Linked DNA regions of Homo sapiens: region 2 is linked to region 1. Evidence: fine-mapped expression QTL. A gene starts in region 1. The other region holds a variant in brackets. All regions are shown on one strand. Distances are from middle to middle.

Region 1 (5,361 bases):
CCCAGCCACTTGGGAGGCTGAGGTAGGAGGATCGCTTAAAGCCAGGAGTTCCAGACCAGACTGGGCAATATAGCGAGACCTCATCTCTATAAAAAACATTCTATTAACTATCCAGGAGCGGAGGCAGGCGTTTGTAGTCCCAGCTAGTCAGGAGGCTGAGGTGGGAGGATTGCTTGAGCCCAGGAGATGGAGGCTGGTCCACCCTGGGCAACAGAGAAGACACCCTGTCTCAAAAAAAAGGGAGCCAGGCATGGTGGCTCATGCCTGTAATCCCAGCACTTTAGGAGGCCAAGGCAGGCGGACTACGTGATGTCAGGAGTTTGAGACCAGCCTGGTTAATACGGTGAAACCCCATCTCTACTAAAATTACAAAAATTAGCTGGGCATGGTGGCACGTGCCTGTAGTCCCAGCTACTTGGGAGGCTGACGCAGGAGAATCACTTGAACCTGGGAGGCAGAGGTTGCAGTGAGCCAAGATCGCACCACTGCACTCCAGCCTGGGCGACGGAGTGAGACTCTGCCTCAAACAAACAAACAAATGAGCAATAGACAAAAGGTAAGTGCAGCTAGGCGACAAAAGGGAAGTAAGCGGAGGCTGGGACATGGTCAGGGACCTCGTGCGCAATGCTCAGGAGTATGGCCTCAATTCTAATTCTATTTTTTTTTTTTTTTTTGAGACGGAGTCTCACTCTGTCGCCCAAGCTGGACTGCAGTGGCATGATCTCCGCTCACTGCAAGCTCCGCCTCCGGGGTTCACACCATTCTCCTGCCTCAGCCTCCCGAGTAGCTGGGACTACAGGCGTCCACCACCACGCCTGGCTAATTTTTTTGTATTTTTATTAGAAACGGGGTTTCACCGTGTTAGCCAGGATGGTTTTGATCTCCTGACCTCGTGATCTGCCTGCCTCGGCCTCCCAAAGTGCTGGGATTACAGGCGTGAGCCACCGCTCCCGGCCAGTATGGCGTCAATTCTAAGGGCAACAAGGAGCTATGGGAGGGTGCTGAGCAGGAAAATTCAGCAAAGGTTCCCAGAGGGAGAGCCTGCCCTGGCTAAAAGGGGTCCAGTATGTTCTGGGCAGCTTGAGCTTGACACTGCAAGTCTTTCTGAAGACCAGGTGAACATATGGATGGGGGGAGTGGCAGGTGGGCAGGGAACAGATGGTAGGACCTTGAGTGCCCAGCTAGGGGCTGAGTCTTCCTTCTGCCAAGGATGGGCTGGCCATGGAAGGTGTCTGAGCAGAGGGCACAGTCAGATTTCCACATCAGAACAACCAAGGAGCCGGGGGCAGGGGGCCATGGCATGCAGAAGGGGTGAGTTTTAGAAAGTTCAGAACCAGTCAACTTACGGTGGGATCTTTCCCATCTCCACACCCTCTGTGCCCTCCTTACAATGGGTTCAGTCCCTCTTGCTACTCCATCTTACAAGGAGCTGTGAAGGTGTTGAGCCCTGCCCCGCTAGCCGGCGCTCACCTGCTCCCACGTGGTGCTGTTCCTGAGGTCTGCTCTGATAGAAGCCCCCAGCAATGCCTGTTTCATCCCAGAAGGACCCCCAACGGCTCGTTTGAGCAAGTCCCTCAGAGACACCGCAAAAACCCTCCAAGGATCCTTGCACAGGACACCAGAATCTGCCCCCCTAGCATGAATCCAGTGTCCCAGTCTCCAGAAGAGACCCCCCAAACAAGTCCTGGAATACACAGCAGCCTCCCGACACACTCCGAACAACTCCCAAACCCAAAGTCCCACACAGACCCCAAAATCTCAAACAGTGCCCCAGCTGTAAACGATCCCGAGGAAACTCACACCTTCAGAAACCCGGGAAGTCCTTTATAGAGCAGCTCGCTCATCCCTCAGAGAAAGCCCTAGATAGACCCAAAGTGTCTTGGCAACCCCCCAGAGACTATCTATTGGGTCGTCCCTGTGAGCCCCGGTGACCTACTGGAGAGCCCCCTGAAGTCTCTCACAGTTATCACGGCTCCAAAAAGACCCCCACACCGCCACGGATTTCCAGTCAGCCCCAGCTCCCTGGAATTTCCACCAGTTGCCCAAAGACCCCCAAATTGCCCCCCAAATCCCCTGAGATCATCTCCTAAGCAGCCTGCAACGCCCGAAGCACCTTAGAGGCTACTCATCTTCCTCGAGAAATCCTTAAAGTGTCCCCTGTAGCCCCCTCAGAGACCCCCAACTGGTCACCCTCTCAGGCCCCGCCCCCGCCCAGCCCTCGGCCCAGCCCCGCCCCCAACCTACAAAGCACCCTCAGCTCTCCGGACCCTCCAAGCCGTCCCCGCAACCCAGCCCTGCACCGTGCGCCCCCAGAGCCCTCAGCCCCGCCCCCAGCCCTGGACGGATCCCGGCAACACTCACAAGAGGTCTCGCCTCGCGGTCTTGCAGACGATGCGCAGGAAGCGCCAGCCGCCGCTGCCCACGTACACGCCGAGCGCCGCTGCCGCGCTCCAGGTCCACGGCAGCCCCAGCAGCCACAACAGCGCCAGCGAGACCACCGAGGCCGCGCCCGCACCCGGAGCCCGCATCCTGGGGAAGCAGAGAGAGCTGAGGCCGCGGGCCGCTCCAGCCCCGCCCCACGACCCGCTCCGCCCCACGACCGCCCCCGCCTCTACAGCGAGCCGCGCCCCCAGGCCTCGGCTCTGCGCCCCCCGCGAGTCCGGGAACGCGCTCCGAGTCAGACTCCGCCCCCAGGCCTGGGATTGGTCAACTCCTCAGGCCAGGCATCGCCCCTTTCCAGGCTTTTACACCCGCCCGCTAACTAGGAACCAGACCAGGGCCCCAGGCCTGGGATTGGCCAGGTCCTGGCCAGGCTCCGCCCCCGGACCCTGGGTCCGCTCTATTCCATATTTTTGAGCCCATCCTTCCCTGCCAATCTTACAACAGTCCCCGCCCCCAGAGCCAGCATGTCCACCTTGTCGGTCACTGTCAGGCCTCGCCACATGCCTTCATCTAGCCTCTATCCTCGATCCCCGAATTACCCTTCACGTCCTGTCCCCTTTCCTCCTGGTCCTGCCTCTACCCCGTGGCCTTTTCACCACTCACTGGGCCCCGCCCTTAGGTTATGCTTCTAGCCCAGCCCACAGGTACAAGCCCTCTCCCCGAGTCCCGCCCCTCTCAGCCAGGCCCCACCCCCTAGGTTAGACATATGCCTCCCCACCCCCCCGCAATAAGCACACGCCCCACCCTCCCGAAACTAGAGCCCTCCCCAATCCGTTCAAGCCCCACCCCAGTTCCGGGCCTAGCCCAAGTTCCCAGGCTCAGGTTCTATCCTGGCCACGGGCCCCGCCCTCAGGCTTTGGCTCGGTCGCCACCTCCTGGGTTTCACTCCGGCCCCCCTAGGACCTAGGCCCCGCCCCTCTTCCCTCCTGTCTACTTCGAAGCCCCTCAGCCCGCAGAGCCGAGGCCGGCCGTCTTCCAGAAGCCACGACCATAGAGAGGCAACCGGACCGGAGAGGCGACGGCCAAAGAGACATGGGTGCTAGAACGGCCCGCCAGGGTCGTCCGCTGTCTCCATGACAACCAAGCCTTGCCCCACCCCCTCTCCTTTTAGGAAACACACGTGTCCTGCAGCCTTGGGGCGTGGCTCGCAAGATATCAGGACCCGAGCCCTAGTTGGCGTGCAGGATCTCTACCCCGGGGGACCAAAAATATCCCAGTCCACACCCACGGCCCGCGCGGGCTGTATTCTTGCTCCAGCTTGTCCTAAATCCAAGCCCCAAAGCCTCTTTCGGTCTTAAAAACACGTTCCAGGGCCCGGGGGAGTGCTCAACTCACACCATTGGGGCCTCAGAAGTCTCTAACTGTAAACACCGCCGCGGTCTTAACACGTGTGATTCAAGGACACAGCTAATTCTTAATCCATGTCCCGAAGCCTTGTCGGTTAAGTCTCACCGTCACACCCCAGGATCCCAGGGAGGACAAAATCCACACGCCAGGTCCCCATCCTTCCTAGAAGCACCTACAGGCCCTTTACTTGCACCCCGGGGTCCTAGATGCTCCCCCAGGCGCTGCCAGCGCTGGCCTGGGGGCACGCACAACCCCATTCTCTGGCTGACCTGAAGCTGCAAGCCGTGCCTTCAGTCTCCCAGAAGCTCAGGCAGGAGGCAGGCAGGGACTAGGAGGCTGAGGCCGGGGACCTTTCTGTTTCTGCAGACTCCTGGACCCTTCTTGGGTGCGCTGTGCCTACTGTGCGGGCTTCTGCTTTGGGGTCCTTCCCTTCCAGCTCCCCCTCCTCTGCCCCACTGCCGACTCCACCACTGCTTGTTTTCTGCTCTCCTTGGCCGACCTTTCCAGCGTTCTCCTTAGGAGGCGGCCCGGGCCTGATTCCAATGCATTTGGAGGACAGGGCTGGGCAGGCACTCACCCCCTACGCTGCCATTGGTCCCTGCGGGCAGCAGGGTGGCTGGAATGAGGGATCACGAGGAAGATCCGGAGGACAGGCCCAGAGCCAGCCACTGGCCTGCTGCTTTCTGGGCCTGGAAGAGTCAGCAATGACCAGTAACTGCAGTTGCACTCTTACCTAGCCAGGTAGCACCGCTGTGATCACCCCATTTGACAGGTAAAGAAACTGAGGGCAGGCTGGGCGTGGTGACTCACGCCTGTAATCCCAGCATTTTGGGAGGCCGAGTTGGGTGGATCACTTGAGGCCAGAAGTTCGAAACCAGCCTGACCAACATGACGAAACCCCGTCTCTACTAAAAATACAAAAATTAGTCAGGCATGGTGGAGCACACCTGTAATCCCAGCTACTCCGGAGGCTGAGGGAGCAGAATCACTTGAACCCGGAAGGCAGAGGATCCAGTGAGCCGAGATCGCGTCACTATACTCCAGCCTGGGTGACAAAGCAAGACCCTGTCTTAAAAAAAAAAAAATAGAAGAGAGAAAGAAAGAAAGAAAAGAAAGAAACAAAGAAAGAAGGAAGAAAGAAACTGAGGACTGGAGCTGTCATGCTTACTTGGAATTGAGATTCATTCATTCATAAATGTCAGCTGAGTGTTCCCTGTCCCTCCTCCCCTCCTCTCCTCCTTTCCCTCCTCCTTCCTCTCTTCTTACCCCTCCTCCTCCTTTTTCTTCTCTAAACTTCCCCTCCACCTTTCTTGTGCTCTGATTCTCTCTTCTCTTACCCCACTTCCTCCTTCTCTCTTTCTCCCTCCTTCTCTCCTTTCTGCCCTTTTCTCTCCTCCTCCCTGCCCTCCTCCTCTCTTCCCCCCTTCCTTTTTTCCTATCCTCCCTTTTCCCCCTCCATCTTACCAGTTTGTTTGTTTGTTTTGAGATGGAATCTTACTCTGTCACACAGGCTGGAGTGCAATGTCTCAATCTTGGCTCACTGCAACCTCCGCCTCCTGGGTCCACGCGATT
Region 2 (5,361 bases), 35 kb before region 1:
TATTCAAAGTTTCTCTTTCTGAGGTTTCCACAGTTCAAACATATTAAATGGAGAATTCCAGAAATAAGCAATTCATAAGTTTCAAATTGCGTGCTGTTCTGAGGAGCATGATGAAATCTCGGACTGCCTTGCTCCATCCCTCTCTGTCCCGCCCAGGGTCATGAATCACCCCTTTGTCCAGCAGATCCATGCTGGAGACACCACTCCCCCCATGCCCACTCATTTGTCACTTAGTAGCCTCCTGGTTATGAGATTGAAAAACCAGTATAAACTGGGCACGGTGACTCACACCTGTAATCCCAGCACTTTGGGAGGCCAAGGCAGGAGGATGGCTTCAGCCCAGGAGTTCAAGACCAGCCTGGGCAATACAGTGGGACCTCATCTCTGCAAACAAATCAAAAAATTAGCTGGGCGTGATGGTGCATATCTGTAGTCTCAGCCACGCAGGAGGCTGATGGAGGATTGCTTGTGTGTGGGAGGTCAAGGCTGCAGTGAGCTATGATCATGCCACTGTACTCTGGCCTGGGCAACAGAATAAGACTTTGTCTTAAAAATAAATAAATTAGGCCACGTGCGGTGGCTCACGCCTGTAATCCCAGCACTTTGGGAGGCCGAGGAGGGCGGATCATGAGGTCAGGAGATTGAGACCATCCTGGCTAACACGGTGAAACCCCATCTCTACTAAAAATACAAAAAAATTAGCCGGGCGTGGTGGCAGGCACCTGTAGTCCCAGCTACTCGGGAGGCTGAGGCAGGAAAATGGCGTGAACCTGGGAGGCAGAGCTTGCAGTGAGCCGAGATCGTGCCACTGCACTCCAGCCTGGGAGACAGCAGGACTCCATCTCAAAAATAAATAAATAATTAAATTAAATTAAAATTAGAAAGGGAGGAAAGGATGAAGGAAAGGAAGGGAGGGAGGGAGGGAGGAAGGGAAAGAAAAAGAAGGAAAGGAAAGAAAGGAAGAAAGAAAAGAAACAAAACATATTTAGGGCTCAGTATTATGGTCAGTTTCAGGCATCCATTTGGGGTCTTGGAACATATCCCCCAGCGATTGGGAGGAATACTGTATAGACTCCTGAGCTTGGAGTCCTGGGTTCGAATCCCAGCTCAGACGGCCACCCCAGCAGGCCTAGCGACTTTCACCCAGAGCTCTCACACCAGCCGGCCTGTACATGGAAGAGGACACTGCCAGGGCAGCCACAGGTGCCAGGACATACCGTGATCTGAGCCATCCTGCAACACCTGCAGGAACCCACAGGCAGGCTGGCCATCCCTCCCCTGCAACCACAAGGTCAACGAGGGCCTGTGAGGCCCAGACACTGCAGGGAGGTGCCTCCCCCTCGGCAGGCCAGCGAGAGGGCCAACCCGAGTGCCCCTGCCCCAAGGTCCCTTTGGTCTTGCAGATGGGGCCACATGGTACAGGGTCCCTTCTTTTTCTTTTCTTTTTTTTTTTTTTTTGAGACAAAGTCTCGCTCTGTCACCCAGGATGGAGTGCAGTGGCACCATCTCGGCTCACTGCAACCTCCACCTCCCGGCGCAAGCAATTCTCCTGCCCCAGCCTCTGGGGTAGCTGGGATTACAGGTGCGCGCACCACCATGCCTGGCTACTTTTTGTATTCCCTCCCTCCCTCCCTCTCCTCTCCTCTCTCGCTCTTTCCCTCCCTCCCTCCCCCTTTCTCTCTTTCTTTCTATTTTGAACCAGAGTCTCGCTCTGCCACCCAGGCTGGAGTGCACTGCAACCTCTGCCTCCTAGGTTCCAGCAATTCTCCTGCCTGAGCCTCCCGAGTAGCTGGAATTAAAGGTGTGAGCCACCATGCCCAGCTAATTATTTTGTTTGTATTTTTAGTAGAGACAGGGTTTCACCATGTTGGCCAGGCTGGTCTCGAACTCCTGGGCTCAAGTGATTCACCCACCTCAGCCTCCCAAAGTGCTGGGATTACAGGCATGAGCCACTATGCCCGGCTGGCCGAGTCCTGCCTTCTGAAACTCAGCAAGGGTTCTGTGCCACATAGGGACACTCAATGAATGGGCTCCCAGCAGGCACCAGACGGTCTTCAGGTTTATTTCTTAAATCAATTAGGAAATAAAACCACAGTGCCCAGGAAAGTTCACATGAGACGCCACGGTGTCTCTTGCCATGGCCCCACCACTCCAGGGGCCAGGGGGTGCTGCTGGAGGGAGGACAGACGGACAGGCGGCCTGGGTGGCCGGCCCCAGAAAGGCTGGCGTGGATGTTCGAGATGAGCCACCAGCGAAGCCAGTAGGGATGTCTGGGCCGTCCTGGTGGGATTGTCTGGGACATCGCCACCAACACGGTGTCAGAGCCATCAGTGGGGACATCGGAGGGGCCACCACCAGGTGGGGTATATTCAACAGGCTAGAACCCCTGAGGCTTGAGAGGCCAACCCCCGGCAGGAGACCTCCCCTGACCCCTCTGCTGCCTCTCCTGTGGGACCCTCCAGTAGACACACCAGATGAGGACACCCAGGAGGCCTCCTCCCAGGACAGGAGGCAGCTGGCTGGGCAGCCACGCAGTGCAGGGTTCAGGGCCCTCCAGCAGGAGCTCCATGGAGATGGCTAAATGGGGACATCAAGGCAGGGGCTGACAGTGGTGACATCCAAGTGGTCACAGTCAATTCCGGAAGCTTTCAGGGCATCAGGAGGGGAAGGTGGGGCTGGGGAAATGTGACAGGAACGGGGAAGTGCAAAAGGCAATTGGCCTAGCCTGGGAGATTTTCCAGTTGGCCTGGGGGACCCCCGGCTCCTCCATTCAGCAGGGAGGGCGGAGGGCCTGCTTGGAAGTCACATGGAGCTGCAGCATCTGGAACCCAACAGCCACAGGAGGCCTGGATCGGGGCTCCGTAAGGCACAGCCGAGAGGGAGGTGGGGAGGCCCCAGTCCGAGTCCAGGGCCCAGGGGAGATGATTCCTGCAGTCCCCAAAAGCAGCTGGACCCTACACAAGATGCAGCTCCCAGGACACGCGTGTTCCACTCTCGGCAGGAGAGGAGAGGAAAAAGGAAAGGCCGGGCCAGAGGCTCACGCCTATAATCCCAGCACTCTGGGAGGCCGAGGCCAGCGGATCACCTGAGGTCAGGAGTTCAAGACCA[A/G]CCTGACCAACATGGTGAAACCCCGTCTCTACTAAAAATATAAAAATTAGCTGGACGTGGTGGCGGGTGCCTGTAATCCCAGCTACTCAGGAGGCTGAGGTGGGAGGATCACTTGAACCCCAGGAGGCAGAGGTTGCAGTGAGCCGAGATCCCACCACTGCACTCTAGCCCGGGCAGCAGAGTGAGACTCTATCTTAAAAAAAAAAGAAAGAAAGAAAGAAAAGAAAAAGAGGGAAGAGTTAAGGCCAGACAGGGACAGGGATGGAAGGAGACAGAGGCTGAAAAGCAGGGAGAGGAGGCAGACACAGGGGCACCAAGGCAGCAGAGAGGCACGGGTTCCTCTGAGGTTCCAGTTTCTCAGTCCAGGATGGGCCGTGCCAGGTACAGCTCGGCCAGGTGGGTGTGTACTAGGCGGCCACCCCTGGGCAGCGCTGTCTGGCTCAAGCTGGCCTCTCCCACCAGGCCCAGAGTTTGTGGCCAGTAGAGGAACAGCTTCAGAGGGCGAAGGCGCCCGAGCAGATGCGAGTGTAGACTGCCTCATTTAAGGGCAGGTAGTGGCCCTGCTTCAGGTCCAGGAAGAAGAGCCGGTCTGAGGTCTGGCGTGGGTCAAAGCCCTCTCGCTGCAGCCTCGTCTTCTGGATCTTGAAGGTGCCTATAGTGGGGATGGGGGGCAGATAAGGGCTGAGCAGGTGGCTTCTGGGAGGCCTCAACTCAATATCCTCTCCTGCACCTCTGGACCTTCCCACAGGCTGTCCCCTGGGCAGGAATGTTCTTCCCCATTTTGCCTGCCTGATTCCCCCTTGTCTGTCAGATCCTGGCTTCATGCCCCCTCCTCCAGTGAGGCCTCCCTAACCACTCCTCACCAGGGCAAGAAAATGTACACCCTGCCTGGTCATGTGTCCATTCCCCACATGACAGGCAGGGCTGTGTCTGTTACACAGTGAATAAGAGTTTAGCAACTTACATCCTGTGGGCCAAATTTGGCCCTCCACCTGTTTTTGTAAATAAAGTTTTACTGGGGCCGGGCACAATAATGGCTCATGCCTATAATCTCAGTACTTTGGGACGCCAAGGCAGGAGGGTCGCTTGAGCCCAGGAGTTTAAGACCAGCCTGGGCAACATAGTGAGACTCTGTCTCTGCAAAAACCCTTTTTTTTTTTTTTTTTTTTTTTTTTGAGACATAGTCTTGCTTTGTCACCCAGGCTGGAGTGCAGTGGTGTGATCTCGGCTCACTGCAACCTCCACCTCCTGGATTCAAGTGATTCTCCTGCCTCAGCCTCCCAAGTAGCTGGGATTATAGGCGTGCACCACCACACGTGGCTAATTTTTAAAATTTTGGTAGAGACAGGGTTTCACTATGTTGGCCAGGCTGGTCTCGAACTCCTGACCTCAAGTGATCTGCCCGCCTCGGCCTCTCAAAATGCTGGGATTACAGGCGTGAGCCACCGCACCCGGCCAACAATTTTTTTTTTTTTTTAAATTAGCTGGGTGTCATGGCACGTGCGTGTAGTTCCGGCTACTTGGGAGGCTGAGGTGGGAGAATCACTTGAGCCCAGGAGGAGAAGACTGCAGTAAACTATGATTGCATTATTGCATTCCAGCCTGGACAACAGCAAGATCTTGTCTCAAAAAATAAATAAAAATTTAGAAATAAAGTTTTATTGGCACACAGCCATGCTCATTCATTTGCACATTGTCTATGGCTGCTTTTGCACAAGAATAGCAGTGTTGAATAGCAATCGAGGCTGTATGGCCTGCAAAGCCGAAAATATTAACTATCTGGTCCTTTAAGAAAAAGTTTGCCTGAGCCCAGGACTGCGAGACCAGCCTGGGCAACACAGTGAGACCCTGATATATTTTGGCTGTGTCCCCACCCAAATCTCATCTTGAATTGTAGCTCCCATACTTCCCACGTGTTGTGGGAGGGACCCGGTGGGAGGTAGTTGAATCATGGGGGTGGGTCTTTCCCGTGCTGTTCTCATGATAGTGAAGGGGTCTCACGAGATTTGATGGCTTTATTTGGTGGTTTTTAAAGGGGAGTTCCCTTGCACACACTCTCTTGCCCTCCACCATTAAAAAGTCCCTTTGCTTTTCCTTCGTCTTCTGCCATGATGGTGAGGCCATCCCAGCCATGTGGAACTGTGAGTTCCATTAAACCTCTTTCCTTTATAAATTACCCAGTCTCGGATATGTCTTTATTAGCAGCATGAGAATGGACTAATACAGACCCCATCTCTACAAAAAATCAAAAAA

Evidence for each region. PIP is the estimated chance that this variant, and not a neighbour inherited with it, causes the effect. A credible set is the group of variants that fine-mapping cannot tell apart.
Region 2: its variant is the best candidate, but not a certain one, in a credible set for the expression of SLC27A1 in whole blood (TOPMed, PIP 0.81).

What each region holds. Positions count from the first base shown.
Region 1 is chr19:17,467,708-17,473,068 of GRCh38, reverse strand. It overlaps SLC27A1 (solute carrier family 27 member 1), which reads right to left and starts at 2,545. Exons shown (of 12, transcript NM_198580.3): 1 at 2,362-2,545. The coding sequence starts at 2,528. RefSeq lists enhancers at 1,428-1,929, 3,351-3,480 and a silencer at 2,471-2,600.
Region 2 is chr19:17,502,854-17,508,214 of GRCh38, reverse strand. SLC27A1 (solute carrier family 27 member 1) reads right to left here. Exons shown (of 12, transcript NM_198580.3): 12 at 2,047-3,760. The coding sequence ends at 3,603. The region is part of intron 1 of PGLS-DT (PGLS divergent transcript); the gene reads left to right. Among named protein-coding and RNA genes, the nearest start is that of PGLS, 6.1 kb to the left of the region's middle. RefSeq lists an enhancer at 1-725. The variant A/G (reference allele first, on the strand shown) is at 3,109.